3 linked regions of the Homo sapiens genome follow. The protein of the gene in region 3 purifies or fractionates together with the protein of the main gene of each other region. This does not show direct contact. Each region holds a gene or a part of one and is shown on either strand. Other genes may lie near its edges.

What was found. Proteins that work in one complex are often made in the same cells at the same time.
Region 1: the proteins of LGALSL (region 3) and ZFAND6 fractionate together in Homo sapiens (co-fractionation; one large-scale study listed by BioGRID). This does not show direct contact.
Region 2: the proteins of LGALSL (region 3) and SCAF11 purify together in Homo sapiens (affinity purification with mass spectrometry; one large-scale study listed by BioGRID and IntAct). This does not show direct contact.

What each region holds. Positions count from the first base shown.
Region 1 is NC_000015.10:80,064,989-80,070,411, forward strand, and holds part of ZFAND6 (AN1-type zinc finger protein 6), read left to right. Parts: intron 1-5,423. UniProt on the Homo sapiens protein: Involved in regulation of TNF-alpha induced NF-kappa-B activation and apoptosis. Involved in modulation of 'Lys-48'-linked polyubiquitination status of TRAF2 and decreases association of TRAF2 with RIPK1.
Region 2 is NC_000012.12:45,923,839-45,929,261, forward strand, and holds part of SCAF11 (protein SCAF11), read right to left. Parts: intron 5,022-5,423; coding exon 2,304-5,021; intron 1,237-2,303; coding exon 890-1,236; intron 1-889. UniProt on the Homo sapiens protein: Plays a role in pre-mRNA alternative splicing by regulating spliceosome assembly.
Region 3 is NC_000002.12:64,456,513-64,460,795, forward strand, and holds part of LGALSL (galectin-related protein), read left to right. Parts: intron 1-1,772; coding exon 1,773-1,916; 3' UTR 1,917-4,283. UniProt on the Homo sapiens protein: Does not bind lactose, and may not bind carbohydrates.

The DNA of each region.
Region 1 (5,423 bases), on a different chromosome or scaffold from region 3:
TCTCTCTCTCCCCCTTTTTTTTTTTTTTTTTTTTAACAAAACAAAAAAACAGGCAAGGGTTTTTACTTTTTAAGAAAATTAGGTTAATACTTTCTTTTATGGCTTCTACTTTGCTTTTATATTTAAAGGCTTCTCCTACCCAGTTAAGTTTTCTTCTAGTTCTTTTACGGTTTCATATTTCACATCTGTCTTTTTCTGTTCATCTGGGATTTATTTTGACATATGTGAAGTGAAATAACCTCCCTTATTTTTCCTTAAAAATTTTGGCCCCACTAAAAAAAAAAACAACTTGTTGCCTTGAAATAAAGCTGCCTTTATCATATGTTAAATGCACATCTTCTTGGTTCTTTTTAGGTTTTATTGAAATATCAATGATTTGGTACCAGTGTACACTTGTATACATGGGGCATGGTATTTTCATTTTGTAAACAAGTGTGTTTCTGTTATTGTTTAAGTCTCCCCCCCATCCCCCTTTTTTGGTTGTTGCTTTGTTAGTCCTCAGATTTTTTAGTTTATTCTTTTGGGGCTTCAAATTAGTTTTGGTTTTGATTTTTTTTTTTTTTTTTTTTTTTTTGGAGACAGAGTCTTACTCTGTTGCCCAGGCTGGAGTGTGATGGCATGATCTTGGCTCACTGCAGCCTTTGTCTCCAGGTTCAAGTGATTCTCATGCCTCAGCCTTCTGAGTAGTTGGGATTACAGGGGTGTGCCACCACACCTGGCTAATTTTTGTGTTTTTAGTAGAGATAGGGTTTCATCGTGTTGGCCAAGCTGGTCTCGAACCCCTGACCTCAGGTGATCTACCCACCTCGGCCTCCCAAAGTGCTGGGATTACAGGCGTGACCCACTGTGCCTGGCCAGTTTTGAATTTTTTAACTTAAAAAAATTGCAACTTTTATAATATTTTATGTTTTATAATGAAAAAATGTAATCCTATTGAATGTTCCTCTGAGCATAGCTTTAGCTATATTACTTAAATTTTGATGAGTAATATTTTTATGTTTATATATTTAAAAACCCCTGCAGTTGCAGTTTTTATTTTTTCAACAAGTATTTAAGCACCTGCTCCATCTAGACATTCTGCCAAGTGCTGAGGACACAACTATGTACAAGACAAGGTCTCTTGCCTTCATCCAGTTACAGTCTGTCAATATAGACAAACCAACGAATAAAGAATTTTCAGATTTCGACAAGTGTCTAGGAAGTAAATAAATAATAGAAGGTGCTAATTGGATGATCTGAGACTGTCTCTCTGAGGATGTCATGTTTAAGTTGATTGGTGGTACCAAGGTGTGTATGGGAGTTTCTTTAGCTTTCCCAATCTATCGAAACATAAAAAAAAAAAAAAACGGAGTCTCACTCTGTTGCCCAGGCTGGAGTGCAGTGGTGTGGTCTTGGCTCGCTGCAACCTCTGCCTCCTGGGTTCAAGCAATTCTCCTGCCTCAGCCTCCTGAGTAGCTGAGATTACAGGCATGCGCCACCATGCCCAGCTAATTTTTGTATTTTTAGTAGAGATGGGGTTTCACCACGGTGGCCAGGCTGGTCACAAATTCCTGACCTCAGGTGATCCACCCGCCTCAGCCTCCCAAAGTGCTGGGATTACAGGCGTGAGCCACCACGCCCAGCCGAAATGACTAAGTTTTTTTGGGAAAATATTTTGTGAAAATTGCTTTGCAGGCCTGGCTGAGATCACTTGATGTCAAGAGTTCAAGACCAGCCTGGCCAACGTGGCGAAACCTCATCTCTGTTGAAAATACCAAAATTAGCTGGGCGTGGTGGCCGGTAGCTGTAATCCCAGCTACTCGGGAGGCTGAGGCAGGAGAATCACTTGAAACTTAGAGGCGGAGGTTGCAGTGAGCCGAGACTGCACCACTACACTCTAGCCTGGGCGACACAGTGAGACTCCATCTCCCAAAAAAAAAAAAAAAAAATTGCAAACAGTTTGAAGCCTCTTCCCCATCTTCCAGCTGGATTGCTGCTCCAAAGCTTGTCCTGTGTAGAAAATTTGGAACTTTGATTCTGAGTTCTAAAATCAAGAAGTTGAAGGTAGTTTCCCATGTGAAGAGAACTGCTGGCACAAATGGTACATATGCAAAGTGCTTGACTTGACTTTGAATTTGACAGAAGATTAGAATGACTGGTGTTTACTGAGGGAGGACAGTGGGACAAGCTTTGTTTCAGGACTTGTTTGGGAGACTTTTATTTTTTATTTCCAAATGGTAGGGCTGCTTCCACCCCTCCTGCCTTCCTATGGAGTTTTGATTTTGTAATCCAAATCAGTCTCCTACAAATAGCATATATTATTTTACCTCTTGTTACTTTTCTTCATTATTTCTACTGTTTTCAGTTTTCTCTACTCAAGACCTTTGCATATGCTTTTGTTTTGCTTAGTTGTGATTTCCTTGAGGAATCCTTCCTTGATGCCACAAAATAGGTTAGGTCTTTCTCTTGGCTTCATGGGCTCATTTTATATTGGGCTTTTCTTTCATAAACATTTGTAACAACTCCAGTTCATTAAGTTTGTGTGAATTGTTTTAGCATCTATTTCTTCTTCCAGAACCATAGTCTGGTAGCTACCATCCACTTGTGGCTATTTAAATAAATTTAAATTTAATTTAATATTAAAAATTCAGTTCCTCATTTGTATTAGTCACATTCTAGGTGCTCACTCAGTGGCCTTATGTGGCTAGTGGCGATTGTGTTGGACAGCAGAGAGACAGTCTTCTGCAATAATAGATACTTATCTTAATTTATAGTCCTGTGGCTAATGGCTACCATATTTTATTTAAATAGTCACATCTGACTATTGAGATATGGCAAGTCTGAACTGATGTATTAAGTTTGAAATAGGAACTTGATTTCTAGTACCAAACAATGAAAATATCTCAATTTTTAAAATATTACATATTGAAGTAGTGATATTTTACATGTATTGTGTTAAAATATACTATTACTGTTAATTTTATTTCTTAATTAAAAAAATTTTTTTTTCTTGAGACGGAATCTTACTCTGTTGCCCAGGCTGGAGTGCAGTGGCACAATCTCGGCTCACTGCAACCTCTGCCTCCTGGGTTCAAGTGATTCTCCTGCCTCTGCTTCCCAAGTAGCTGGGACTACAGGCGAGCACCACCGCGCCTGGCCTGTTTTTTTTTTTTTTGTTTGTTTGTTTGTTTGTTTTTGAGACATGGTGTTGCCTTTGTCGCCCAGGATGGAGTGCAGTGATGTGATGTTGGCTCACTGTAGTCTCAACCTCCCTGGCTCAAGGGATCCTCCCACCTCAGCCTCCTAAGTAGCTGGGACTACAGGCGCGCCACCATGCCTGTATAATTTTTAAAAATTTTTAAAATTTTTTGTAGAGATGGGGTTTCACTGTGTTGCCCAGGCTGGTCTTGAACTTTTTTTTTGAGATGGAGTCTCGCTCTGTTGCCCAGGCTGGAGTACAGTGGCACGATCTCGGCTAACTGCAGCCTCCAGCCCCCGGGTTCAAGTGATTCTCCTGCCTCAGCCTCCGGAGTAGCTGGGATTACAGGCGAGTGCCACCACGCCTGGCTAATTTTTGTATTTTAAGTAGAGACTGGGTTTCGCCATATTGGCCAGGCTGGTCTCGAACACCTGACCTCAGGTGATCCGCCCACTGTGGCCTCCCAAAGTGCTGGGATTATAGGCGTGAGCTACCGCGCTCAGCCGGTCTTGAACTTTAGAGCTCAAGTAATCTGTCTGCCTTGGCCTCTGAAAGTCTTGGGATTACAGGCGTGAGCCACCGTGCCCAGCCAATTTTTAAATTTCAATGTGACTACTAGGAAATAGAAAACCACATGTGGCTCTCATTATGTTTCTGTGAGACAGCACTGGTCTGACTCGACCATAAGTTTGTACAGTGGTAGGGACTATATCCATTTTATTTACTGTGGTATCTTCAGCGCATAACAGACGTTCAAAAGATTTGGTGAATGAATAAACTAACTCTGTTAACTTTTGAATGTTATTGCATAGTTTACAGAGAATGTTACCTATTCAGCTTTTGCTTTTCAGAATTGTTTTCTTTGTGACTGATTAAAATGGTTGAGAAAAGCTCTTTCAGTAACTATATAAAGAATGAGTCTTCGTCTTTTATGTAATATTTTATTTATTTTTTTCTGGTTTAGGCCTCCAAGGAGAGAGAGAATTTAAAGTTGGCCAGTCTATTTTCTCTTAGTTTTTCTATGTCTAGCACTTTTTCTTAGATGATCTATGATATGTTGTTTGGCACATGAAAATTTATGACTTAAAATCTTAATAGTTGAGTATTATAAATGCCTTCTCTTTTATTTTTGTCTCACTATTGTGATCCCTGTTTCTTTTTATTTTGCATTAATCAGTGACCTTGTTTATCCCTTGAGACCTAAAACAAAGCAATGTACTGTTTTTTTGTAGAAAGATACCTTATCCTATCGGCTTGGTTTATGCTTGCTTATTTGTATGTTTCCTTAATGTTTCCTTTGTGTTCAGTGTTTGACCTCATATGCCATTCATTCAAACTCCCCAACTCCTCATACACACCTTGTAATCTTTTCCCTAAGGAGTCAGGAGAGATACACCAGGAATTGCAGGCTCAAATATATCTTACTTTTGCCAGGGAAATATTTTTTTTATTTTTTGTTATTTATTTATTTATTTATTTATTTAGAGACAGAGTCTTACTCTATAGCCCAGGCTGGAGTGCAATGTCTGCTGCCCGGGTTCAAGCAATCCTCCTGCCTCAGTCTCCCAAGTAGCTGGGATTACAGGCACCTGCCACTGCACGAGGCTAATTTTTGTAGTTCTAGTAGAGACGGGGTTTCACCATCTTGGCCAGGCTGGTCTTGAACTCCTGACCTTGTGATCCACCTGCCTCTGCCTCCGAAAGTGCTGGGATTTACAGGCGTGAGCCACCACACCTGGCCATATTTTTTTATTTTTTATTCCCCATTGAGGTGTTTTTCAGAGTTTATCCTTAGTGATCCCAGTTATGTTTTGCTAATGTCAGGGTGGTCTTTTTATCAACTACTACAATAAACCACCAGTCGTGCCAGAGAAAATGCCCAGGATTAATTTCTTTTGTAGGAAGAGCAGTTTGAACTATATGGAATCCTTCAAAATTCTAAGAAAGTGTTTGCCCTGTTCTGTATATATTCTGCCAAAAGTTGTTCCTAATAGTCTAGATATTGATTCTTTATGTAAGTAGGGTCTTTTTAATCAAAAGTGAAGTGGGACCAAATTGTTCAGTGGCTTGTTCTCTTCTAAATTGTTTTTAGCTGATAAGATTTGGGAAACTTTCTGGGCTTCCACAAATAATATACAATACATCTTTGAATACTTGATGCTTAAAAAGTGTTGTTACTGCATGCAATCAGGGAGCTCCAGAGCTTTTTGCAGGCTCCTTGTTCCTGAGAAGCAATATTGTTTTC
Region 2 (5,423 bases), on a different chromosome or scaffold from region 3:
GCCTGGCTAATTTTTGTATTTTTTTTTTTCTAGACAGAGTCTTGCTCTGTCACCCAGGCTGGAGTGCAGTGGTGCAATCTCGGCTCACTGCAACCTCCGCCTCCTGGGTTCAAGCAATTCTCCTGCCTCAACCTCCTTAGTAGCTGGGATTACAGGCGCTTGCCACCACACCCGGCTAATTTTTGTATTTTTAGTAGAGGCAGGGTTTCACCATGTTGGCCAGGCTGATCCTGACCTCGTGATTCACCCACCTGGGCCTCACAAGGTGCTGGGATAACAGGCGTGAGCCACCATGCCCGGCCTAGGATTCTAAAATTTTTAAAAGGCAGTCATAAAATTATAAGCAACAAATTGTTTGCAAATTATTCAAATTTTCTATGTCTCACAGAGGCACTTCTCCTTTCTTTTTAGCATGATAAATTCATGAAAATGAAACACAGATGGTAATGGATAATAAACAGCTTTATCCAGTGTTTGTCTGAACAAGACAATAAAAGCTTCATCACAGTACTTAATCACTAGTTCCCACCGTCCCCATATACCCCCTAAACAGTGCAAAACAGGGGAAAAATGTAAAGCACCCACCACTCGATTCTAATTTGGCTTATAATTTGGTTTACTTAATATGAATAAAAAAATCCTGTTCAGATATAAGTAACAGCATATATGTAGCTTGGATTTGGTAATAAGTATTTAATTAATTTTCTAATTTGGGAGTTGGGGGGTTTTGAGAAGGATAGTGAAAGAGGGATTATGAAGGTTTACCATAACTGAAATCAAATAAACAATTGTTTTTGAATGCCAGGATGCCTTTTTTTGAACATCTGTCATGAACAGCTAAATGTTTACAATGGCTATATTGATTAAACTTGAGTTGCTAAAAACATACCTGCAATTGCTTTCCATCTGGTTGTGAAGCAATGTAGTTGACTTGTTGGGATGGTGGGGGAGGGGGTGGTGGTGGTGGTAGTCCCTGAGATACACTGGTAGGAGTGGCTACCTGCATGAGGGGCACTCCTGTGTGGAGATGCAAGGGTAGCTGAGGATGAATGTTAAATGGATTGCGTTGGATGTTCATCAAAGGAGCATGAACACCCACTGGATATGGGAAGATATTCATAGGCTGGTGTTGTGCATTCATTTGTTGCTGCATTACATTCATTTGCGGTTGCATCATATTTATAGGTAGCTGAGAACCATCAACTTGCTGGTTTGTTTGGTCTTTTAGGCTAGAATCTATCAAAAGAAAAAAAGCTTGTGAAAAAAATCATGTTATAAATCTCTTTAGACAGAGAAACAAAGAACCACTGGTTACAGTAAAATTAAATAGCAATTAATAGGCTCAGTATACCAATACCAATCTCCAATTGCTTAATTTAATCCTGTCATTTCTAAATAATGTGGACTGACTTTCTAATGAAAGAAAACATTTGGCGAGGCACGGTGGCTCAAGCCTGTAATCCCAGCACTTTGGGAGGCCAAGGCGGGCAGATCACCTGAGGTCAGGTGTTCGAGAGCAGCCTGGCCAACATGGTGAAACCCCGTCTCTACTAAAAAAATACAAAAATTAGCCAGGCGTGGTGGTGAGCGCCTGTAATCCCAGCTAGTCAGGAGGCTGGAGAATTGCTTGAACCCAGGAGGTGGAGGTTGCAGTGAGCAAAGATCATGCCATTGCACTCCAGCCTGGGCAACAACAGAGAAACTCCATCTCAAAAAACAAAACGAACATTCACCTGAAAATATTTTTAAGAATAAGTTCATGCAAAACATACATCAACAATCAGTAGCTCAAGAAACTGACTAGTTAAAAAAAAAAATCACATAAAATTTAACTACTAAATTATAAGGTTATTCAATTTTTACATCTTCAACAGCCTTTATCTTGCAATGTTCTTAACAAGAAAAAAAACAAGGAAATATAAATCTTTACTATTAAAACAATGGCTTATTTTATTTGTATGAGAACAATTATCAAAAAAATTAAAAGTGTACATATCTGAAATAAACAAATTAGAGGTTAAATCCTGCATAGGAATATCCCAAACTCTTCTATTGTAGCAAACAGTGCTGAAAATATTTAAGTCTTTGGCAAGGTTTGGAGCAGAGGTAGCATTAATAATATACTTATGTAGATAAACGTACGTGTATATATATTTATATAATGCTAAGTGACTTGTAAACAACTAAGGTTCAGCTTATTATAAAAACTACAAATAAGGATCATTTCAACTCATACAAATAACATATTAAATTTATAATTCTTCAAATAAAACAGTATCAATAAACCAACAAGAATACATTACCCTGTCCAGATGTTTCCTCCTCTTGTTTCATCCATCCAGACTGTGGACCTGAAGAATTTCTGCCTCGTCGTGAGTAGTAGTTTTGTACATCTGCTGGCAAAGTCTTTCTCACGGCCCAGCTGGATGCAGATGTCCATCCAGATCTATCTGCTGGTGTATCAAATGAGAACTCCTGTTCACTTTTTCGCTTATAGGATTGCTGTTCCACAAACTTGAAAGATTCACTCCCTGAACTGTTTGAATTCCCTGAGAGGGGTTTTCGATTTTGCCACCGATTTTCATTCTGATCTTTATAGGCAAAACTACTTCTGTAAGTGCCTCTGCCACGGTTGCCTCTGCCTCTACCACGGTTAGATACCCAACCAGAACCAAAGTTTTTATTCCAAGAATTTCCTGAATTTTCATTTCTATTTTCTTCCCAATGAGACTCTTTCAACTTTTCTGGATTTCTGGTTCTTGGATCAGGCCCAGAGTTTATTTTTTCTGTTATCCAATTGGGACAGTCATTTCTATGTTTGTCAGCAGAATTTGGATCATCAGCATCTAGATGGATGTCATTTTTTTCTTTTCTTGTATTTTCATTCTGTTTCTCTGGGTCATTCTTTCTGTACCGATCATTTCCTCGTGGACATCTCCAACCATCATTTGCCCATCTTCCCTTCCACCGGGGAGAGTAACTATCTCTGTCAATTCTACCAAATGATGAACTCTTACTTTTTGTTCTACATCTTGAGGGGGACCTAGAATGAGATCTGGACCTAGACCACTTTCTGGTTCTCCTTTCTCTCTCTCTCCTCTGCCCATCTCTATCACTTTCTCGTTCTCTGCTCTGGGACCTGGATTTTTCTCCTGGGGAAGAATCTTTCACTCTTGGCTGAGATCTTTTGTTCTCTCTAGAAGTTTCTCTTCTTGGGGACAGTGATTCAGATCTTCTGCTTTCCCTAGTAGTATCCCTTTTTGGAGACCGAGACTGAGATTGCCTCCTTTCTCTTGCAATATCCTTTTTTGGGGACTGAGAACGGGATTTTTTCCGGCCTCTGGCTGACTCATTCTTAGGAGATGGTGATTGAGACTTCCTGCTTTCTTTCCCAGTTTCTCTTCTGGGAGATGGAGACTGGGGCCGCTTCTTTTCTTGTGGAGTGTCTTTGTTGGGTGACCAAGTTGTAGATGGAGAATGAAATCTAGATCTTCGAGTACGAGGCTTTTTGGTTTTATCTATGGTATCTTTTGGGCTTTCAGATGGTTGAGAAACAGTTTCAACCTTTTCATCCGCAAGATCAGAAGACGGCATATTATTTTCAGAACAGTGTGTCACAGAATTTTCATTCATTTGTTTAAGATCAGCATTTACAGATGGTTCAACTTCAGATTCATTTTGGTCACTGCAAAATGAATCACACTCCATAGGTATCATTTCATTGTTGTCCTCACTAAAATGCTTCTGAATCTGTTCAATGTGTGTTTTAGGCAACTCTGTAGATCTAGGATGTTCGGTCAGCGATTCATTCTTTTCTTCTAAAGATTTTTCCAATTTGGTGTTCAGAAGATTATTTTTTAGTAAGTTATTTTCAGAGTCTTGAATATTATTGAAATCTTCATTCCCAAAAGTATCACATGTTGCAATTATTTCTACATCTTCAGTTTCAACATGCCCAAGCAATTGAACCTCTGGGCTCTTAACAGATTGTCTGTCCACTGTCTGTATAATTTCACCCTCAGAAGATTCTAACTTGGGGCTCTCTATAAGCTCCTCTGTTTTTAGTGTAAAATCTTTATGTTCAGTAATTTCTACTAGGGAACTCTCTGTTATTTTTTCTTCATTAACCACTGACTCTACATTCTCAGATAAGTCACTTAGGGGACAAGATACAGGTTGGTACACTTTGCTTTCAGATGTTAAACATGTAGGAAAATCATTTGGAAGATGAACTGTACATACATCTGTCTTTACCTCTGATTGTGAAAGTCCAGATATCTGGTCTTGCTTTTCCAATGGATCACCTCCTTTTTCAAGAATATTTTCAGAAATCTCACTTTCCAAACACAAAACATTAGCCTCTATACCTGTATTCTCGAGTTTTTTAACTTCCCCTTCCTCACCAACTAGCACAGGAAGATCTTGAGCACAAGACTCAGAAGATGAAGATCCTACTCTTTCCTCTGTATCATAATTTGCAGTATGCTTCTCACTTTCTTCTATTTGCTCATTGCAACTTTTCAAGCAATTAGCAGACTGGTTTTCTACATGAGTCTGCACAGTACAAATGTTACTACTGTCTACATCTGGTTGGTGCTCTTTTTCTAACACAGGTGATGTGTCAGATTCTGCTGTTTCTTCATCTACTGAATCATTGGAAGATGATTTTTCAGGGGCAGCTACAGAGCTCCGAAGTTTCTTTTTCAGTAAAGGTGGTTTTCTTCCTCTTCTTACAGACTTCCGTTTTGGAGCCTGTCTTGTTTGCTTTTCTGACTCAGCTGAAGAGGGAACACTTAAAGATGGATTACTGTTACCTGGGGCATCACACCCAGAATTGTCTGATATTGGGGATCTCTGAGACTGACTGGCTGTTTCAGCTCTTGTGTTACGTGTAGACCTCCTTGTAGGAGTTGTCATTGCAGGTTTTCGTCTTGATCCTCTGGTATTTGATGTACCAGAAGTTTGCTTCTTTTCTTCCCCTTCTTGAGTATGTGCTAATGCATATCCCTTGCAAGAAGTACCTAATAATATTTAAAAAAAAAAAAAAAGTAAAAAATATGTTTTAAGAAATAGTAATTTGGCTTTAGCTAATTTTAGCATAAAATAGTCTGCAACAGAGTGAAACTAAATACTTATAAATAAAACTATTAATAAATGCATAGCTACTAACATCTGAGTAATATGACTTATTCATCAACTTTCTTAATGACACTGAAATAAGTTATAACTAGATTTGGTCCAAATGGGCAATTTTATAGAGAAAAAAAAAAAGGAAAATAACTTTTGGTCTTGTAACTGCTACTTGCTTAATTTTTTTTTTTTTTGGAGACAGGGTCTCACTCTGTCACCCAGGCTGGAGTGCAATGGCGTGATCACTGGAGCAATCATCGCGCACAGAAGCCTCAACCTCCCAGGCTCAAGCG
Region 3 (4,283 bases):
GTTCGACTTACCTAGTGTGTGCCAAGAACACTTGAAGCAGCCAGAATTTCTGCATGTCCAGGAAATTTGTCACCCAATGGTGAAAAAAAAAGATCAAAAGAGCTCTGTTTGCTGATATAAATTAACACTTGCCATAGTATCTTCTTAGTTCTATTCAGGTCATACATTTAAATAGACCCATATTTACATGTCCAAATTGTTAAGAATAAGTAACTTTTCTATGTAGTACCCAACATATAGTAGATACCTACCCCCAAATATCTGATTGATTAATCAATACTAAGTACCCACTTATTAAATATTAATATTAATAAGGTTGAGAGCTAATAAGTAGCTCTTTTATTTGTATGACATTTTAAAGAATATGATGATGATCATTTCATTTTCTCTTGTTCCCTTTGCTAATGAGGCCATGTTCGTGTCCTTGTTTCCCCCTCTGGATTAATTAGCCTCAGTCTATTTCATGGTTACAGGCTGTGTGGCTGACAAATTCCTTCCCTTGGGGCTGGATGAATAAAGATTTGCTCCCCACTATCTTCTGGGCAGGAAGCACAATCCAAACTTTTCATCCAATCAAGCAGCATTAGCAGCCCCTTCCTCTATGAAAGGCAATGCCAAATAAGAGATGCAGGTAGTGGCACAGTGGCTTGTGCCTATAATCCCACCACTTTGGGAGGCTGAGGCAAGAGGATTGCTTGAGCAAAGGAGTTCAAGACCAGCCTAGGAAACACAGCAAAAACCCTGCCTTTAAAAAAAAAAAAATTAGCCTGCCATGGTGTCACACACCTGTAGTCCTAGCTACTTGGGAGGCTGAGACGGGAGGATTGCTTGAGCCCAGGAATTCAAGGCTGCAGTGAGCTATGTGTGCATCACTGCACTCCAGCCTGGGTGACAGAGCAAGGCTCTGTCAAAAAAAAAAAAAATAAAGGGAAATGCAAGTAGTAATGGTGTTAAAAAGGGGTCAGACCTAGTGATGAATTGTCATTACACCTTAACATTACATCACAATAATGACAACTCAGTTAAAAGCTCCATGTTACATGTGAGCCCAATAAAACACAACTACACTTAACTGGTTACCCTTCATCTAGAAATTTTCAAGTGCCTCATGAAGAAGTAATTCTTTCACTTCTCTTCTTACATTCTGGGGAAAATAAGAATCCATGATTTTTGCATTGGTGGTAGAATTGAGATAGTTGCACTTCTAGTTATAGTCTCTGGAAGGCACCCTTGACCCATTATCTCTCCTCATCCCCTTCTCTAGAATGGTGATGTCCCCTTGGGCTCCTCTTGGCTAGGATAGTTTCTTAGTGATGAACCTTAATGCATAGCTCATGAATGTGAGTAACCACAGCTTCTGACTGCCAGGAGGAATATAATGCTCCCAACAGCAAAACTGAAGTGAAATAGGCCCTTCTTGGTGATAAAATTTAGTAATATAAAATAAATGTGACTAGTATCACATATGGAGCCTCCTTACATGGTGAATGCCAATGCTTTTAATAAACCCATCATAGCACACTACCAGTAATTGAACTTTATGGTAAATTACTTGAGGAAAAAGCTTTTACACTTACATTCTACACAGGAATCAGAAATTTTGGAGGTAGAGCCCAACAATCTGTGTTCTAACAAGCCCTCTGCAGGTCTCAATGCATTCTGATGTTTGTGAACCACTGAAGATACTGCCTTTCTTTCTCTAAAATGAAGTATTGTTTGTTTTCCCCAGTAGCGTTCATTGAAATTGTGGATTATTATTTTGTTTCTTCCAGGTGGAAATTCTTTGTGAGCACCCACGTTTCCGAGTGTTTGTGGATGGACACCAACTTTTTGATTTTTACCATCGCATTCAAACGTTATCTGCAATTGACACCATAAAGATAAATGGAGACCTCCAGATCACCAAGCTTGGCTGATTTAAACCACCTCTATTTCAAATAGGATCACGTGCCACAACTATCTGACTGTTGGTCTGGAAGAAGTGTCCTAGCAAGATCTGGAGACTTAAAAAGAAAACAAAAACAAATGGCAAGTTTCACTTAAGGGTGGTTTGCCCTTAAGAAGAAAGCTGTTGGGACAAAGACACCGAGCCATTATACCCAGAATAAAATAATACATTTATGCTGGATTTTATTCAGACCAAACTAAAATGGATTTGTGATGATTTGTGATTTGGTAGCAAATTATTCATCTTTTCAAAGCAAGGCAATGCTTAGAAACAGAAGTGCTAAAGACACTTAAAAAGCCAACAACAACGGTACAGTGAAATCAATGCATTTCTGCACTAAAGTGGAATTGTGTAGCACAACCAATATTTTAGTCAGGGTATTTACATAGAATGTAGGTTGTTCAAGGTTTGACTTTTTTTTTGTTTTTTGTTTTTGTTTTTGTTTTTGTTTTGCACAGCATAATGTTAATTCAGATTGTTGAAGCTTTCTTGTAGTTATTTATTTATACTCAATGTATGTATTAAAGAATGAACAATGTCTCAAGAACAGCAAGTTGTAAACTTTTGAATGTATAAATATCTTAGGTCCAAGGGGAGAAAATTACATATTACAATTATGAAACAGGTGAATTTCTGCTTTAAAGAATTGAGATTCTCCATACCCCTAAACTTAGGATCTCTTGATATAAACTGCTGTAAGTGCTTTTGGGAAACCTTTGCAAAACCATTTTGATAAAACTGCTTTCCAAGTTATTGTTGGTTATGTAAAATTCTATTTACATTGCTTTTTCTCCTTACTGGGAATTAGCACATTATTGGCTTCCTTAAGACTAATTATTTCTCTCTTGATTTATATAATAGCTCATTAAGTTGTTATTAATCAAAAACACAAAGAGGTGATTGCTTAGACAATTTTTAAAGTGACTATAGTATAAACTTTTAAAAGAATAATATGAAAATGACTGTGGAATGCAGTGTAAAGCAGAAGCAAACGGCCCTGAATAACTTACTTGGAAGTAATTTATATCAACTTAAGCTGTTAGCTCATTGTATAACTTTTCTTATGTGACCCTCACCAATATCCCTAAGTAATGCCTTTGGAAGCTTCAGAGTAGAAGATGCTTCCTACTGTGTTGGCTCTGAGGAGATAGTAGGATTAGATAGGATCCAGATTAGGAAATGATCCAGTTAGTTTATCTGAAAGGTTAACTCCCAGGACTCCAGGTCTTTGAATCCAGCCAGTAGAGTGAATGCTTCCAATTAAGCTGTAGGTGTTACCCTGCACTTACGGAACTGATCAAACAGGTGACTCCAACAGGAGGTTGCAGTACTGTAAACGTCACCGCAAGGCAAGGGATGCTTAAAGTCCTGGGTTCTGGACTTTAAAAGCTACATTGGCCCTGGAGGGAGGGACCCTTGGCATTGCTTTGATCAGGTAGTGAGGGAAGACAGGGTTCTGGGGTGGGGGTGTATTTATATATAATTTAGGTTTTGTTTGTACAGCATACTGTGTCTTGTAATGACACATCCTTGTCCTGCTTTCCTTTTTTGAGTTTTTTTTTTTTTTTTACACAACATGCAGAGGCACTGAAGTGACCATGTCATTTTCAAGTGTCAAGAATGTAGACAGTGTTTCAGTACCAAAGTCTAAAATAAACTAAAATTATGAATTTTTTATAGGTGATACATTTGGATTCTTCTCAACTTTGAAACTGTTTAGCACAGTTCCATTGTATTATATAAGAAGACACTGTATCCAACAAGACTGGCTGTACATTGAAAAGCTTTATGTACCAGCCAACTTATTTAACCATATTCAGCCTGTTCCGTGGGGGCTGTTCTGTGGTTCCAGGTATTTTCAAGCCTGTGATTAACTTCTCATGGCTTGTCACTTAAAAGTCCCTAAATTTGAGAGACTTAAAGGGCACCTTGAAATACATTTGTGGAGTTTTGATCCAACTTATGGTGGAAGAGCCCCATAGGAAGACTGTTTTGAGTGGCCAACCATTCCCACCCACTGCATAATTCAGCAGAAACTAGAGGAGCAGGGCGTGTACTGATTGGAATTGACACGCTTATTCTGTCTACCTATCAGCTAACTCATTAGCAGCCAAGCCCTTAGGCAGCTTAGTGTGAAAATACAATGTTAACTGTTTGTTTCTCTGTGAGGTTAGTGGGAACCGCTTGGATAAGCCTATTGGGATTAATCTAAATGATGTGATGATTTGATTCAGGTATAGCCCAAATTAGTAAGGGGCTTTAGCTGTAAACTGAAAACAATATTCACACCCTCTCCTGGGCCTGTAAGGTCTAAGGTGAGAATTTCAGGATGGAA